Linked DNA regions of Homo sapiens. The protein of the gene in region 2 purifies or fractionates together with the protein of the main gene of each other region. This does not show direct contact. Each region holds a gene or a part of one and is shown on either strand. Other genes may lie near its edges.

Region 1 (3,773 bases), on a different chromosome or scaffold from region 2:
AGGGGCTGCATCTGGTGAGAACCTCCTTGCAACATCATCTGATGACAGAAGGACACACTTAAGAGCTCAATTCACGCTTATAATAAGCCAACTCTCTTGATAACTAACCCACTCCTACAGTAACGACATTAACCCATTTATGAGGGCAGAACCCTTAAGACCTAATCATCTCTTGATAGGCCCCACCTCCCATCTTCGTTGCTTTAGGGATTAGGTTTCTAATACATGAACTTCAGGAACACGTTCCTACCCATAACAGTTAAATGATATTTTTGTTGTTCTTTTTGATTTTGTTGCTCTTGTCTAAATTATTATTATAATAAAATCTGGGTTGATTTATAGTCCCATAGTTAATTCTTTGTAAAGAGTATTTTCTAGCATGCGTTATGTTTCATGTGCCAGTGACTTTTCTTCCAGTTTTTGTGTCTAAAGTCCAGCTAAGTAATTGTCTGTTTAATTCTAGATGATATACTGCTGGAAATGTTAAGTAGAGTTAATAATGTATGTTTTTTGCGTGATTGTAACAGTGATTGTAATCATGATTGTAATATGAGTGTATCATATTGAATGGTTATGTTAGAAGCACTGAATTGAGTGGCACAGTATTTGTTTTACTGTATAGACAGAATTCTAGTATGACAGTTATGTACAGAATACAATGTGTTCACAATTAATTTGCCAAGTAAGTTCTTGTCATAAAAAATATTCATCTTAATAGAAAATGTTTTTGGCTGGGCATGGTGGCTCACACCTGTAATCCCAGCACTTTGGGAGGCTGAGGAGGGTGGATCACGAGGTCAGGAGTTTGAGACCATCCTGGCCAACATGGTGAAACCCCGTCTCTCCTAAAAATCAGCTGTGCGTACTGGCACACACCTGTAATCCCAGCTACTCAGGGGGCTAAAGCGGGAGAATCACTTGAACCTGGGAGGCAGAGGTTGCAGTGAGCCAAGATCGCACCACTGCACTCCAGCCTGAGCGACAGAACAAGACTCCATCTCAAAAAAAAAAAAAAAAAAAAAAACCACAAAATGTTTTCACGTGACAAACTACCTCCTATTCAATTGAATTCTTATTTTAAAACTCCGTATTAGAGATACGAATAAAATGTTACATATACAATAAATAATATATAAGTAATAAGAGGTTAATGTAATATTTTTGAATTAAATATTTCCTTAGGAAAATGTTCTGCTGCTGCCCTGGATGTTCTTGCAAATGTGTATCGTGATGAACTGCTGCCACATATTTTGCCCCTTTTGAAAGAATTACTTTTTCATCATGAATGGGTTGTTAAAGAATCAGGCATTTTGGTTTTAGGAGCAATTGCTGAAGGTAAGCCTAAGTCCAGTTTGAATTATGTAAGTTGGCTTCTTACTACTATTAGGTACTAATAAGGCTAGGCTACTTTAAGGAATTTCTATTTTGAACCAGATAACTAGTATTAAACAGCCATAGGCCGTCTTCTAACCCCAGCTAGATATTTTGCAAAATGTTTTTGTTATAATAAAGGTAACAGAGGCCAGGCATGGTGGCTCACGCCTATAATCTCAGCACTTTGGGAGGCTTAGGCGGGTGGATTACCTGAGATGGTTTCAAGACCAGCCTGGTTAACATGGCGAAACCACGTCTGCTAAAAATACAAAAATTAGCTGGGCGTGGTGGCATGTGCCTGTAGTCCCAGCTACTTGGAAGGCTGAGGCAGGAGAATTGCTTGGACCTGGGAAGTGGTAGTTGCAGTGAGCTGAATTCGTGCGATTGCACTCCAGCCTGGGTGACAGAGCAAGACTCCATCTCAATAAAAAATAAAAACAAAAAAATTAAGGGAACAGAATGAAAGGCTCTGATGTCTGAAGCATCCCCATTGCTTTAAAAAAAAATCCTTGATTCTTTAGGTAAGTATAGGAAACACAATAAGGCAAGACTCTCTTCATTCTCTATGAAGGGTTATTATTGATTTTGTCCTGGCAGTAAACATCTATTAGAAGAAATTGAAACACTGTAAGATGCTTGGGAGCAGGTAGCTCTAACTTCAGGGTTTTAAAAATAATTTTGGTATAGGTTATTGTAGTATGTGTATAGCAGTAGAAATATTCTGAATTTTTTCATAGATACGTGTTTTATTTTCATAATCAACCAAAATAATGTTAACTAAATTTTAGCATTTTGAAAGATTTATTTTTTTTCTAGGTTGCATGCAGGGCATGATTCCATACTTGCCTGAGCTTATTCCTCACCTTATTCAGTGCCTCTCTGATAAAAAGGCTCTTGTGCGTTCCATAACATGCTGGACTCTTAGCCGCTATGCACACTGGGTGGTCAGCCAGCCGCCAGACACGTACCTGAAGCCATTAATGACAGAATTGCTAAAGCGCATCCTGGACAGCAACAAGAGAGTACAAGAAGCTGCCTGCAGGTGGGACAGATTCATAACACAGTGTTCTTTGTGGCAGTGAAAAACTTAATTTTCAACCTTCTGATGGAGTGTTGGTGTTAAACCTATAATGAAGTGTTTCGTAATTGAAAATTTTCCAGTTATATCAGAAAGCTTAGTTTTCTTTTTTCTTCTTGGTGAAGTGTTTTGCAGGATCTGTAGCTTTTGGGTTTGCATATTAGCGTATTTTATACATTTTGTTTGGCCAGGAGAATTTTGTCATGTGGGTTTTACCTGATGATTTTGTAGATCTAAATGTGACAACATCGATCTTAGCTGTTTCTTCTTTGGCTCATTTTTCCCACTCAGTGGTTATTATAACAGAACTATCTTACACCCTAATTCCCTCAGACATCTGAACTAGTGATGGCAGGACTCCTACTCTTGAAGGAATAACAACGTTTGAGCAGATTGACATCCTTAGACTACAGGTCAACCACCATAACTCAGAAAGTCCCACAGGGACCTGTGGTCTGTCACTTACCAGTTAAAGGTCTTTGAGTGCTTAGTAGTTCTGCTCTAGTAGCCATTCTATTGGTTGGTTTGGTGGCTGTCTCTTTATATCAAGCCAGCAGTTGCTTTTATTACTACAAATATTCCAGTTTCCTGCAATATACCTTTATATTTTAAAAGGGCCTTCTGCTTATGTTTATAGTTCTTAATTTTTCGAGTAGGTTTGCTTTTACCATTGACCTTGATAGTAGGAAAAAATAACTGTTGAACAAAAAAAAGGAAAATTTTATTTTATTTTTTTTAGATGGAGTCTTGCTCTGTCGCCCAGGCTGGAGTGCAGTGGTGTGATCTTGGCTTACTGTAACCTCCGCCTCTCGGGTTCAAGCAATTCTCCTGCCTCTGCCTCCTGAGTAGCTGGGACTACAGGTGTGCGACACCATGCCCAGCTAATTTTTGTATTTTTAGTAGAGATGGGGTTTTGTCATGTTGGCCAGGCTGGTCTTGAACTCCTGACCTCAAGTGATCCACCCATCTTGGCCTCCCAAAGTGCTGGGATTGCAGGCGTGAGCCACCGCGCCTGGCAGGGATAGTAAATTTGAGTTTGACCTTAATCCATCTGAAGCAGTCATATCTGGAAGATATTAAGGGAGGGAGGATATAGATTATGTTTGAGATCCTATAATTTATTCATTCAGTACCTCGGTTTTTTTTTTTAGCTATTAATTGTTAAGCATATACTAAATGCTGAGTTTACATAAAGTCCCTGCCATCTTGAGACTTACAGGTTAGTAGGAAATACAAAGCAGCAACATAATTATCATTTATGGCAAGTGCTATGGAAGAAATCGGTAAATAATTCACAGTGCTGATGACCAGGGCTTTCATT
Region 2 (5,163 bases):
ATATGAGAAAAATATAATTGGCACATCTAAACTGTTATTTCTCTGCTTAAGGTGATAATATATAATTGTCTCAAAAATAAATATATAAAAGTTAAAAAGCGAGTCAATTTAAAATATGTGAAGTAAAAATATGGGATTCTGAGATATGGCAGAAGAACCACTTATCTTAGGGCGGGGTGTGGTGGCTCACACCTGTAAGCCCAGCACTTTGGGAGGCCGAGGTGGGTGGATCACTTGAGGTCAGGAGTTCGAGACCAGCCTGGCCAACAAGCCTTCTCTCTACTAAAAACACAAAAATTGGCTGGGTGTGGTGGTGTGTGCCTATAATCCCAGCTACTCAGGAGGCTAAGGCAAGAGAATCACTGGAACCCAGGAGGCAGAGGTTGCAGTGAGCCAAGATTGTGCCACTGCACTCCAGCCTGGGCAACAGAGCAACACTCCATCTCAAAAAACAAACAAACAAAAAACAAAAAAACAAAAAAACTTATCTTAAACACTAGCAATGTAAAATATCTCTATATTAGGTACCAACAGATGTTATCCTAGTAGCTAGAGTTTGGGAGAGATGTTTGTGTATTCAGACTTTTGTAATTAGGTGATGGAATTATTCTATTAATACAAAACTTGAATTCTTACCAAAATGTCTTTACATCTACTATTAGTAATTATAGAAAAATGCTTCCCATCACCTCCAAACTCAGTGTTGGATTTAATATGGGCAGAGTAATTTGCATGTTGAGGAGATGTATACAGACCTTTGCCTTTACAGTAGGGGACAGGAAAGGATATTAATATTTCTGTGATTAGGTGGGAGGGCAGAGTTGAAACCAATACTCACCTCTTTGTGCACTGACTGGGGGTGCTGAGGTGAGCATCTCTCAGCCGGTAAATTCCAAAACAAAGCATATTATATGTTTTCAGAGCTTTGCAGAACAGATCACCATAACAACCACCATCCTGGGAGACAGCAAAAGAACAGAGAGAAACATCCTTTTTATTTGCCTGAAAATCAAGGGACAGCAGGGAAACGGGTCTTTTCATCAAAGCTTGTTTTGGTGTCTCCCAAGTTGGAGGGTCCATGTGCCAAGGGACGGCAGTGGAAGAAGTCAACATGTTTAACAGACTACACCCAATATGTGTGATTTTTAGGGATCAGGTAACAATGGGGTTTTCCTCTGGTGTCTCTCCAGTTTTCCACCTGTCGCAGTGGGGTTTGAAAGCTCTAAGGAGATTATGCTTCTCCCTCACTTTAAGTCAAAGTGTAAAGCTTGATGGTCTCAGATGTATGCTCAGCTGAGGAGATGAACCCTTCTCTGCAAAATGGTGATTATGTTCAGTCCCAGCTCAGCTGTAACCGCTGTGATAGGCTCGTGTTGTCAAAACTGTCTGAGTGATAATGAAAACCACCGCAAGGAGGAGGACCCCACCAGGTCCTATGGTGACAGACTCTTTCAGGAGGTAAGGACCCTGTGAAAAGCACAATTTACAGACCTCAGAGATGGCAAGGGTGCAAGAGAATGTGTTTCCCTAGGAGCCAGGGGTCTGCAGGCTGAATAACTAGGATTCGCAGTTCTGATCAGTTCACAGCCACCTTCCCGGGGTCTGGGGCCTGATGCAGAAAGTGAAAGCAAATGCATCCACTTGGAAATGCTGGCTTCAGCGGCCAGGTGGCTTCAGGTAGATGTTACCTGTATTATATGAAGGGCACTGGGCACTGCGGGATGGCTTCACTGGGTATAAAATGACTGTCTTTGTCCTTCCAATCATTGGAATTCTCATATTGGTCTCATACCAAAGAACACTGATGGGACCAAATCTTACCATTATCTAAAGTCTTTATCCTAATCAAGTGCATCAATAAGTAAATGATAGGTATAAAGAGCCACTAGCTATGAAAATTCCCTTTCAAAAAAAGCCTAGTCTAACATAGGTCCCAGTCCATGATCAAACTAAAATATGGGGAAAGTATGCAGCACTGTTTCAGAAAAAACAGAGACAGACCCTTTCCTTGGCTCCTTTTCCACTATTTAGTCTTTCTGGGCGACACCATTGTTTGTGTAACAGGTTTATCAGTTTCTGTGACTTATGGCTGCATCTCTTAAATGCATCTGTGGGGTTGGGCTGGGAATAAGGGCAAAGACAGCACACTTCTGTCACAGTGCCTACACTAGGCAGATACATGGAATCAGAAGGGAGACGCTGGCCACTTCCGTCACAGGGAGGACATGAGGGAACGTGACTGGGTCCACTCTCAGAAATTACAAGGTCTAGGTTTTGATTTACAGGCATTAAAGGATCCACATAAGATTCGGTTTGTTTGGCCGGTGGTTCTGGATACATCTGACTACTGACTACCCTGGTGCTTTGAAAACCACCAGTGCCTGGGTCCTATTCACATATAAAAACTAAGAAACCTGCAGGCTGAGGCTGGCCACCTCCATGTGCTATTAATGTATAGTTGGGTTGAGTATCCCTAAGCTACGCTAAGAGCCTGTGGAAATATTTCCCAACCTTGGCTGCATGCTGGCATCACCTGCTGCTTCTCACCTTGTGCAGAGGATACGTGAAGAGAACACCAAGGAGGGAGAAAGCCCACTGGCTCTGAAGCCAGGATGCCTTGGTGCAAATTCCCAATAGGTCTAGTGCTCATTCTCTCTGGGCCTCAGTTGACTTAGAAGGTGTGATACTAGAACTTATATCAAAGGGTTGCTATGAAGATTAAAATGAATGACTATGCATAGAGCAAAGTGTCTGATCCAGAGTAAACTATAAATAAATATCACCTCTTACAGTTATCTACAATAGGAAGGAGAAAAGCCAGATGCCTAGCTTGTCACATCTGATACCACGTTCTTCAGGATCAAGCTTTTCCCAAACAGCAAGCTCAGGTGACCTCGGTGCTGTGGACTCACCCCTAAGTCCGCAAATGGCCCATCGAGCAGAGCTAACTGGGCCACGCGGCAGCGGTCCCTATTGGCCAGTGTCTGCGGGGTGCTGTAGCCACCTCTAAGGGCGTTTTCCTCAGCAATCAGAGCCTCCAGCTCCGGCGTGGCTCCTCCGGTCACCAGGGTCCGTATCAGGGTGAGGATATTGTCATTGAAGTACGTCTGGGGAAGGAGAGAAAGTGAGGGAAAAGTCCTTTAAGCAAACACCCTAAAGTCATGACAGCCGACATCCAAATTACAACTTTTCTTGGTATCTCCTGTTTAAAGTTCTGGCCTGTCTCTTCAAATAATTTCATGTGGGGAGTGAAAAGACAGCAGCCTCCAATTATTCCGTTATTTTCTCTCTTGCTTGGCTCTGCTACGACAGCCTGACTTAAAAAACCCAGTTCAGGGGATTTTTTAGTAAAGGGCTCAAATCTGAATAATTAGTGTTTGCCATAATTGGTTTTAGTAGGGATACAAATATTGCCTCCCCCTCCTAAAGTCTACGTGACTACTATGAGATTCTGGACACGTGTAATAAAATGCAGCCTGCCCCAGCTACTAACCCAAGCAGCATTGTCTCTGAGGCCCTGTCATCCATGTGCCAGGAAGCTTCCTCCCCACGACAACGGCAAAACCTTTCATTAATGCCACACGCTTAACGATTTACCACATGCGTTGATAACTGTCTAACTCAGAAATCTCGATCAATTAAATATGCCGGATAAATTTATGAAAAGGTGAATGTCCTGGTAAGTGTACTTTGGCTTTTGTTTTCTAAAATAACCTCAGTAGTCTGAGGCAAATATCACTTATTAAAGAAGTTTCCCTCTAAGTGTACATTTGTGTCACATCTGAAACATAACAGATCTGTCAGGAACAAAAGAATGGGAGTTTAAAAAAAATTAATAGGATGTCAAATAAAGGAGCTTTAAAAGGTATTTGTCACCAGCCTAATTTGAGAAATTCTCAGGTAAGGGTGTGCATTCCATTTTCCTATGTAAGTAGAAATCAAGCAGGCTAAAAAACTCAAATCAAAGTTTGCCTGTGGCTTTTGAGGATGCACTTTGGAAAGAGGTAAGGAAAGATGCAATTGCACCTCAGCAGCTTCTTAGAGAGTTTAGCTGGCAAGGCATAGTAGGGAACAAACCAAGTAAGGGTGAGCTCAAGTTCCCATCCCAGGTTTGCTAACTAGTTCTATGTCTTGGAGGTTGCCTAGTCATTCTGGACTTTGATTTTTCTCGTCTGTAAAATAACAGTGGTCATTAAAACCAAATTTATATTCACATAATTCCATGAGGACTTCTGAATTAAGATGATAGTTACTAGCGGGGCTGGATTCACAATCCTCATTGAAATACTTACAAAAACACCCATTGTGATACAAAATTCCAACTGCAAAAGAATTTAGGAATGTTATCCATAGCCTGCCAGACCCTAAAGGAAATTTATGCTCAGAGTTAAGATATGCCCTTAGGCACAGAAGCAGAAAAAGGATACTTAAAGTAGGATATGTTTCTGGAGAGGTTATGGGATCCAGGGATCCAGAGCTGGGCTGAGGGGTTTAATGCTGACTTCACCTCTCAGAAGCTGTGTGACCTTGGAAAGTTATTTAACATTTTTGTGCCTCCGTTTCATGATCTGTAAAATGTAATAATAGAAGGCTGTGGGGCTCTATGACCTACCCATGAAGCACTTAGAAACATGCTTGGTGCACAGGAAGCACTGATAAACATTTTGGCCTCATATCAGAGACATGAGGCCTTTGCCAAGTAGAGGAACAGTCAGCTCCATTCTCAACTTTCCTTTGAATTTTTAATCTTCTTTGTTTTCTTGGAGGCGTGGGGAACTCAGGGCTTTAAAAACCAAGCAAGGGATTTTAAACTCGATGTGGTAGAAAATGGGAGGTCAGCCAAGCATGGTGCACACCTGTAATCCCAGAACTTTGGTAGGCCAAGGTGGGAGGATCATTTGAGGTCAGGAGTGAGGTCAGGAGTTGGGACCAGGCTGGCCAACGTGGTGAATCCTAGTCTCTACTAAAAATAAAAAAATTAGCTAGGCATGGTGGCGGGCACCTGTAATCCCAGATCCTCGGGAGGCTGAGGCCAGAGAATTACTTGAACCCGGGCGGCAGATGTTGCAGTAATCTGAGATCATGCCACTGCACCCCAGCCTGGGTGACAGAGTGAGATTCTGTCTCAGAAAAATAATGAATAAAATACTTAGAAATAAATAT
Region 3 (3,773 bases), on a different chromosome or scaffold from region 2:
TTTGTTCTTTTTAGTACTAAGTAATATTCTATTGTGTAAATATGATACAATTTGTTTATCCATTCATGTGTTGATAGACTTTTGTGTATTTCCAGTTATAGACTCATAAATAAAGGTACTATGGCTTGATTACTTGTGAAGTTGAACTTTTTCCTTTTTGTGGACACTTTCCTCTGAATTGCCCTTACCCATTTTTAAAGTGAACTTTCTTACTGATCTCTATAAGAAGTTCACTTTTTTGAGTATCAATGTTTTGTTTATGATACACATCACAAGTATTTTCTCTAGTCTGTTTGGGTGACTGGTGGTGCCATTAGCTAAAATAGGGCCTAGAGGAAGAGCAACAATGCAGGAGGAGACTCTAGCAAGGTGAAGACTTTTAGTTTCAGATATTTTGAGATTGCCAAAAATTTGGTAGAGAGAAGTGATATTGATAGGGCATTGATTGATTGGCTACAGTCATTCTCTTCATTCCTAGGATGATATTAATCCATCATCAAAATCTACATGCTTGAATCAGATTTACACTGAGTTTTAGTGTTTGTGCCTGCTGTTTTTATCAAGGGAAATAGGTATATGCTGTAGGTGTCTTTGGATGTGGTTCTCTTAATATCCGTTTATATGAACTTGCTCATGAGAAATCTCTGTGGGGCCAGATGCTAGATTTCTTCCTGTTAAGCAACAGTAATAACTGCCTGAATGCTTTGCTCTGTTCACATTGTCAGGAAACTGACACTCATGGGCACATTGTCAGAGTCATTCTCTGGAAACATTTGTATTGGCTGTAAGGTCCATCTCTTCACCCTACATCTTGACCCCCCACCTTGATTTTCATCTTATGTAACTCTTTGTAAAAGGGTTGTAAGAGTATAAATAATTTAAAAGAATTGCCAGTAGTTATTTCTAGTGCCAGGCATATGGCTTCGCATATAGGGGGGATGCTGAGTAGATGTCATCATGATACAAAGAATCAAATGGCAGATGTCTCCAAAAATGGAAAGTCAGAGGGTTTCGAGAGTCTACTTCAGGATTTATCCTGACTAAAAGAAATAACAAATCTGTTTCTCATTTCTTGTTGTCATTATTGTTGATACTGTAGCTTGCAAACCATACTGGGTACATCAAAGTTGACTGGCAACGAGTGGAGAAGGACATGAAGAAAGCCAAAGAGCAGCTGAAGATCCGTAAGAGCAATCAGATACCTACTGAGGTCAGGAGCAAAGCTGAGGAGGTGAGACTTGCATTGTTCACGTGTAGTGTGTGAACAGTGCAGACAAAAACAGGGCTTAACCCTATTGTACCATATCTCAGTGATGGACAGGGCTTAAGCATTACAAAGAACTTAGAGTAATGAGACAAAACTAACTTGGATTATCATCACTTCAGAACATTTTTAAAAGCTGGATAATTGTTTGGTGACCTTTGTCTGTGCACATTTGTGGAGTGATTATCCCTTTAACCAGTTCTTGTAGGAATGTGGGGCAGCATAGTAGGTGGGAAGGATATATGGCCAGTATAATTATTTTGAGTCCCATTTTGTCGCTATACACGCATATCTCTGAAACATTCATACTCTGCTTGTTCTGCATATAACTAGTGGAAATGTCACAAGTATTCAACTCCACTGTATATCATCAAAATAGCCATAGATGATATGTTAAATAAGTGGATGTGGCTGTGTTGCAATAAAACTTTATTTAAAAACAGGTTCAGATTGGATTTGGCCCATGGGCTGTAGTTTGCTAACCCCTGATCTTGTTCATTAAAGCCAAGTTAGATTATGACCTGGCACTGCAGGGACAGGAGAAGTCCTTCCTTTTTAAAAGGATATTTTTTGCTGCTGCTTTATTACCTTTAGAAATATGTCAGATGTTGCAAATAAATAAGTACACTGAACTGGGGAGAAATAAACAAGGATCAGGGTGTCAAGAAGATAGCTGGTACTTTCTGTAGCCTGGAGTGATGAGAGATTCTCCCATTAGCTCACTCTAGCCTCACAGGGAAAACAGACAGATTGAGTGCAGGGGAGGAGAAATACCCTGTGTGCGCCTCAGGCTTCTCATGTTGTGAGTGGCTCTTCGTGCTGGTGATTGGCAAGTGGCTGGTCAAAGCTGGTGCCTTTACCCAGAGTGGGAAGGTGGCAGAGATGGGTATCTACAGGAGCCCAGAGCCCAGATAGTTTCTCTTTCCTTTCTTCCTTCTGTCTCTCCTCAAAGTTAGGAAAGTTACATTTTTTATTTCATGAAAACTTTATTATTCAAATGTTTATAAAAATAATGCATGGCTGGGCACAGTGACTCACCACAGTGAGTAAAAAAAAATTTTGTAAGAGAGGTCTCACTCTGTTGCCCAGGCTGGAGTGCAGTGGCACAGTCATGGCTCACTGTTGCCTCAACCAAGCGATCCTCTGACCTCAGCCTTCTGAGTAGCTGGGTCTATAGGTGTGTACCACCACACCCGGTGAAGTTTTAAATTTTTTGGAGAGACAGGGTCTCCCTGTGTTGTCCTGGCTGGTCTCAAACTTCTGGGCTCAAGCAGTATTCCCACCTCGGCCTCCCAAAGTGCTGGCATTACAGGTGTGAGCCATGGCACCTTGCTGAAAACTTTAAAAATAATACTGGAAGTGTATATAATAAAAAGCATAAAGTTAATATTTGATTAGAACCAACTGTTGACTCACAGAGGGAGTTTGTTATAAAGTAACCAGATAATTTGGAATTGAGTTCACTGTCACAGGCCCTGGGGATGTAGTGGCTGGTTTTCCTACTCATAGAGCCGGTGGTCTGATTTGAGAAACAGGATGAAGATTTAGTTCAGTATTTACCAACAAGATGACTTCAGTGAGAACAGTTTGGTGGGGTGGTGGAGTTGAAAGCCAAATTAGCAAGTTGAAGAAAGAGTAGTAAAAATAATAAACGAAACCAATTTTCTCAGGAAGTTGTATGATTTTTTTTCTTCACCCCAATGGCAGATGACAAAAGTGCTTCATTTAAGGAAATGTAGAGGTCCAGGAGAGATGGAGGAGGAGTGGAAATGAGGCAGGAAGACATAGGCATCGTTGGAGTAAGGGCTTACTGGAGGGTTAGAAGACAGTGGTCCTAGGAGGATGGGGTTGGTAGTGTGAAAAATGTTAGGGGAATGTCAGGGTGTGAGTAGCTTAGGTGGTTTGGGGATGGAAGTCACCGTACTTGAGTTCAAGAAATGATCAGGCCAGGATGTTGGATGTCTTGTTCATATGAACACTTTCTAAGGTGGTGATCACACTTAGGAGAAAGAGGAAGTCTGAGCCACTTATCAAAATTGTCTCTGAAATTGGAAGGGTGGGGAGTGGTCAGGAGATTGGTAGAGCACAGACTAAGGAGCCATAAAGAGTGTCTGAATGTATGCACTGAGTCTCAGATGACCGGGAGCTATTCCAGGAGGGTAGAGGGGAGGTGGGAAGCTTTGGGAACTTAAGGAAATAAGAACGTCACCTGTTAATCATCTTAGATGTGGTGAAGTGTGAGAATGAGAATTTATAGCATCTACCTGGGAGCAGGTTTCAGGGGGGAATGCATGGATGGAGAGATTTAGGGGAGAGACTTCAGGAAATGAGAAGCCTCTATTGGAGGGTAGATGCCAAAGAGGATGGAAGGAGCAAAATTGGAAACAGAATTGCCTCTGTAACCAGTTTATTTAGTGCAGCTTTACTCTTTCGCCATAACTGTCCCCATGAACTCTCCTTCTTTGTCCTTGATTCAAAGAGCCATTGTCTCTACCTCCTGATGTGCATC
Region 4 (3,773 bases), on a different chromosome or scaffold from region 2:
GTTCAGGGGCAGCTGTTTTGAAAACTCCCTGTGTGTCAGCGCCTCAGCAGAATTCTCAGAGCAGGGCTTGGGAATCTATGTTTTAATTTAGGATGAAGAAATCCTTTTAACAAGTGATCCAGTCCACAACTGCTGTAGGTTAGGCAACACTCCCAGATTAGGAAGAGTGCTGGCTTTTGTCAACCAAATGGGTAAGGGACTGAATGGACCAAAATGGGTGTCAACTCTTAACAGTTAGTAACTAGCTCGAATGCCAGTCCCACCCCACACTGACTGGTGCATAAAAACAGAACTGTGTTCAGAGTAGGAATATGGTTGGCCAGAAAGATTTATGAATTAAACTTAGAAAATGAAGAAAATGCACAGACCAGACATTTGTTTTCCCACACTAATAAAATATGTGCATATGGGTTAAACAGACACTCTGAGAGCTAGAGAAACTCAATCAAGACAGTGTCAGGGGGCCAGGCGCGGTGGCTCATGCCTGTAATCCCAGCACTTTGGGAGGCCGAGGCAGGCGGATCACGAGGTCAGGAGATCGAGACCATCCTGGCTAACACGGTGAAACGCCGTCTCTACAAAAAATACAAAAAATTACCCGGGCGCAGTGGCGGGCGCCTGTAGTCCCAGCTACTCGAGAGGCTGAGGCAGGAGAATGGCGTGAACCCGGGAGGCGGAGCTTGCAGTGAGCCAAGATAGCGCCACTGCACTACGGCCTGGGCGAAAGAGCGAGACTCCGTCCAAAAAAAAAAAGACAGTGTCAGGGGACAGAATATATACATATGTATAGCTATAAATAAATGTATTTGTATTATACAGAAATACATATACAAGTACGCTTATTTGTCCCTATTACCCCAATCACCCTAGATTCCCGATTGTCCCTCCCAACATTTCATTCCTGCCTTGCTTAGCGTATCAGGTGAGTCTTTCTATTTTTTCACTTACCAACAGCTACTGTATATCTACCATGTGTATCTTCATATATATGCAAAGAGCTATAACATTACAGTTACACTACCTTAACATTACAATTACGACTATGCTTTTCACTGATGCTGAGAAAGTGAGTCACCTCCTGGCATTATGTTTATAGACTAATTTATTCACCACATTAGCCATTCAGACTTCTGAAATATAAATCTTTAAAAAATTTTTAAGAAAAAAACTTTTGGAAGAAAATTTTAATAGATGTTGCTGTTATTTTCTCTTCTGTATAAAAAGCTTCTATTATGTTTATAAACAACATTGTTTAAAAGAAGTATTTAGCTAATACAACGCTTGTTTAAAAGTAGTCTTTAGCGTATCACAATCCTTCAAGTTTTCAGCAAGGTTCCCAACTTAGAAGACATTATTCAAATAATAAAAAGACCTCATCTGCCAAAATCTGTGTAATTCATGGGACTGACTCAAACAATTGTCACAAATCCAATTTCCCTTCCAAGGTTCAGGAGTTGGGGCCTACAATGACGACATCTCATTCCACTCTCAGTGTCACAAAATACATTTCAATAAATATTACCTGCCAGTTATGTATCAACTCCCAGGTTGAGAATACAATAACAACTAACTAGTTCTAGTAAGTATCCTTATTTGTCCTTGTTACCCAAACCGGGTCATTGGCCCCAACACCCTGGACTTCTGACTGTCCCTTCCAACAATTCATTCCTACCTTGCTTAGGGTATCTGACAGGTCTTTTCCATTTATTTGATAAACAACAGCTCCTGTATATCTGTTATATATAAAGCCCTGTGCTAAATATTCTCCATATTCTACACACTTGAAAAATTTCTGTTTGTTACTTTATAGCTGTCTCCAATGGAAGCTGCTCACTGTCTAACTTTCTGAACCCTATCAGACCTAATACTTGTATGCAAAAAACCCTCATGCCATTTATTTGCTTCCACAATTCTCTACCCCTCCTATAGTGGGTGCTGTGGTATGGGGCTCCCAGCTGCAGGGAGCACTGGTAGCGGACAGTTGTCAGCTGAGCTCCTCTCTGGGCATTCCATCATAAGAGAGCTTCCTCACTTAGGTCACGGCACTTCCCTGGACCAGCCCATATTCAATGCCTGGTTGATGCAGAAGCATAAGACTCAGCCCCCATATTAGGTAGGACAGTGACTGGCCAGCTCAGCTCCAGAAGTCCCCAGAGCAGCAGCTGAGGCCCCAACTGCAAATGCACTTCGGCCTCTCCCTCTGCCCAGTCCTGCTTCCCTCATCCCTCAAGACGTATTCTGAGAGCACTCCCTGATAAACCTTACGCAAATCCCACTTCCCTGGGAAGCCAACCTACAACGGGTGCTACCAGGAGTGGTAAGCAGCTCTCAATTTGGATTTTGGAGCTGGCTTGCCGGCCACTGGCTGGCAATGAGGACCCTGTCCCTGGTGGTAGGGGGGTACTGACAGCACCTGTCATAGAGCTGTAGTGCAGCTGATGCAGCTCTCACCAATGGGGACCTGGGATGGAATGCTGGCGGAAGGGAATGTACTGGCTGATGTGTTATTCTGGGAGTTTAGGAGGAATCAGCAATTTTAAGGACTTATATCAGACGGCTGTGGCTGGGGCCATGGAGAGGGATGGTGAGATGAAGTGTGTAACTAATCACCAGTGAAGGTGAGTGCCAAGGGCAGGAGCCTCCTCCCCGGCAGAACAAGACTCAAATTGCACCCAGAGGATAGAAAATGCGTGGGTGAGGTCTGGGGCGGAAGGGATTCAGGGAGTTTGGCATTTCAAGCCCATGAGACCTCCCACACCAAGGTCAGGGTCCTGATTTGGGAGGAAAGGCAACCTAAAGCTGGGTAGGGGGCCCTTGAGGTCAATGTTGTAAAAAATCTTGAATCCCAATTCTCCTGACCCCTCTAGCCCTGAAGCAGCAGCTCAGTGTCTGGTAAAGGTTGGCACTTCCTCCACCTTGGAAACTGGGCGAGGGGTGGGTGGGGGTTTCTGCCTAGCAAGATACGTGCTGCTCTCAGGAGGGCTCTCCACCTCCCCTCCTGGCCAAGTTACAACACGACTGGGCATGAGAAGGGTGAGAAGAACAATACTCGGAAGGAGCTGGAGGTCCCCCCGGGGGGGGGGGGAACATAGACACCACTGCTTCTTAAGGGTGGTGTGTCAAGGGCACAGAACACAAAACCAGCTGAGAGTTGATCAGCATGGGGCACGCTCCTGTGATGAATTTAGCAACCAGGCAAGCACCCTGGGAACTGATATGCAGCTGGCTAGGTCTGCTCCTGGAAACTTCGAGACAGTGATGGTCCACATTAAGTAAAAGTGACAGAACAGCCATGGCAAACTGGACGAAAGGCTCAACAGCCTCCAAGAATGGGGATGCTACCATAGATATAAGATATAAAGCCCGAAAACCCACCAGCTGACTATGTTCTTAGGAGGGACAGGAGGACACTGTGTACCAAAGCCACAAGGAAGCCACAGTTACATCTTTATAGAGCAGGATGCCCTGACAGAAATGGAGATGAAAGAATTATGAAGCAGAGACCAGGCTGGGGTGTTAAACAGAAGCCAAGGTGGGTGCAACCATCATAACTAATGGCAAGGCTGGAGTGGCAGTCGGGAGTGTCTGACCTACAGAAAGCAACAGAGTTGATGACTAGAACACAGTGTTTCCAAAGGGAAGACACAAGGGCAGCGGACAAGGCTACTTCTGAATTACACAGTCATGAGAAATTAACTACAGATGATTCCTGAGGCTGAAGGCAGCTGCTCTAATGCAAAGTCCTGAACATTGCCCCAGTTTCTGGACCTGAA

The links. Proteins that work in one complex are often made in the same cells at the same time.
Region 1: the proteins of KCNMA1 (region 2) and TNPO1 purify together in Homo sapiens (affinity purification with mass spectrometry, with the first as the bait; one large-scale study listed by BioGRID). This does not show direct contact.
Region 3: the proteins of KCNMA1 (region 2) and FUNDC2 purify together in Homo sapiens (affinity purification with mass spectrometry, with the first as the bait; one large-scale study listed by BioGRID). This does not show direct contact.
Region 4: the proteins of KCNMA1 (region 2) and TIMM21 purify together in Homo sapiens (affinity purification with mass spectrometry, with the first as the bait; one large-scale study listed by BioGRID). This does not show direct contact.

Annotation. Positions count from the first base shown.
Region 1 is NC_000005.10:72,885,888-72,889,660, forward strand, and holds part of TNPO1 (transportin-1), read left to right. Parts: intron 1-1,182; coding exon 1,183-1,335; intron 1,336-2,190; coding exon 2,191-2,416; intron 2,417-3,773. UniProt on the Homo sapiens protein: Functions in nuclear protein import as nuclear transport receptor. Serves as receptor for nuclear localization signals (NLS) in cargo substrates.
Region 2 is NC_000010.11:76,888,613-76,893,775, forward strand, and holds part of KCNMA1 (Calcium-activated potassium channel subunit alpha-1), read right to left. Parts: intron 3,108-5,163; coding exon 2,913-3,107; intron 958-2,912; coding exon 839-957; intron 1-838. UniProt on the Homo sapiens protein: Potassium channel activated by both membrane depolarization or increase in cytosolic Ca(2+) that mediates export of K(+). It is also activated by the concentration of cytosolic Mg(2+).
Region 3 is NC_000023.11:155,050,571-155,054,343, forward strand, and holds part of FUNDC2 (FUN14 domain-containing protein 2), read left to right. Parts: intron 1-1,099; coding exon 1,100-1,231; intron 1,232-3,773. UniProt on the Homo sapiens protein: Binds directly and specifically 1,2-Diacyl-sn-glycero-3-phospho-(1'-myo-inositol-3',4',5'-bisphosphate) (PIP3) leading to the recruitment of PIP3 to mitochondria and may play a role in the regulation of the platelet activation via AKT/GSK3B/cGMP signaling pathways.
Region 4 is NC_000018.10:74,151,250-74,155,022, reverse strand, and holds part of TIMM21 (mitochondrial import inner membrane translocase subunit Tim21 precursor), read right to left. Parts: intron 1-3,773. UniProt on the Homo sapiens protein: Participates in the translocation of transit peptide-containing proteins across the mitochondrial inner membrane.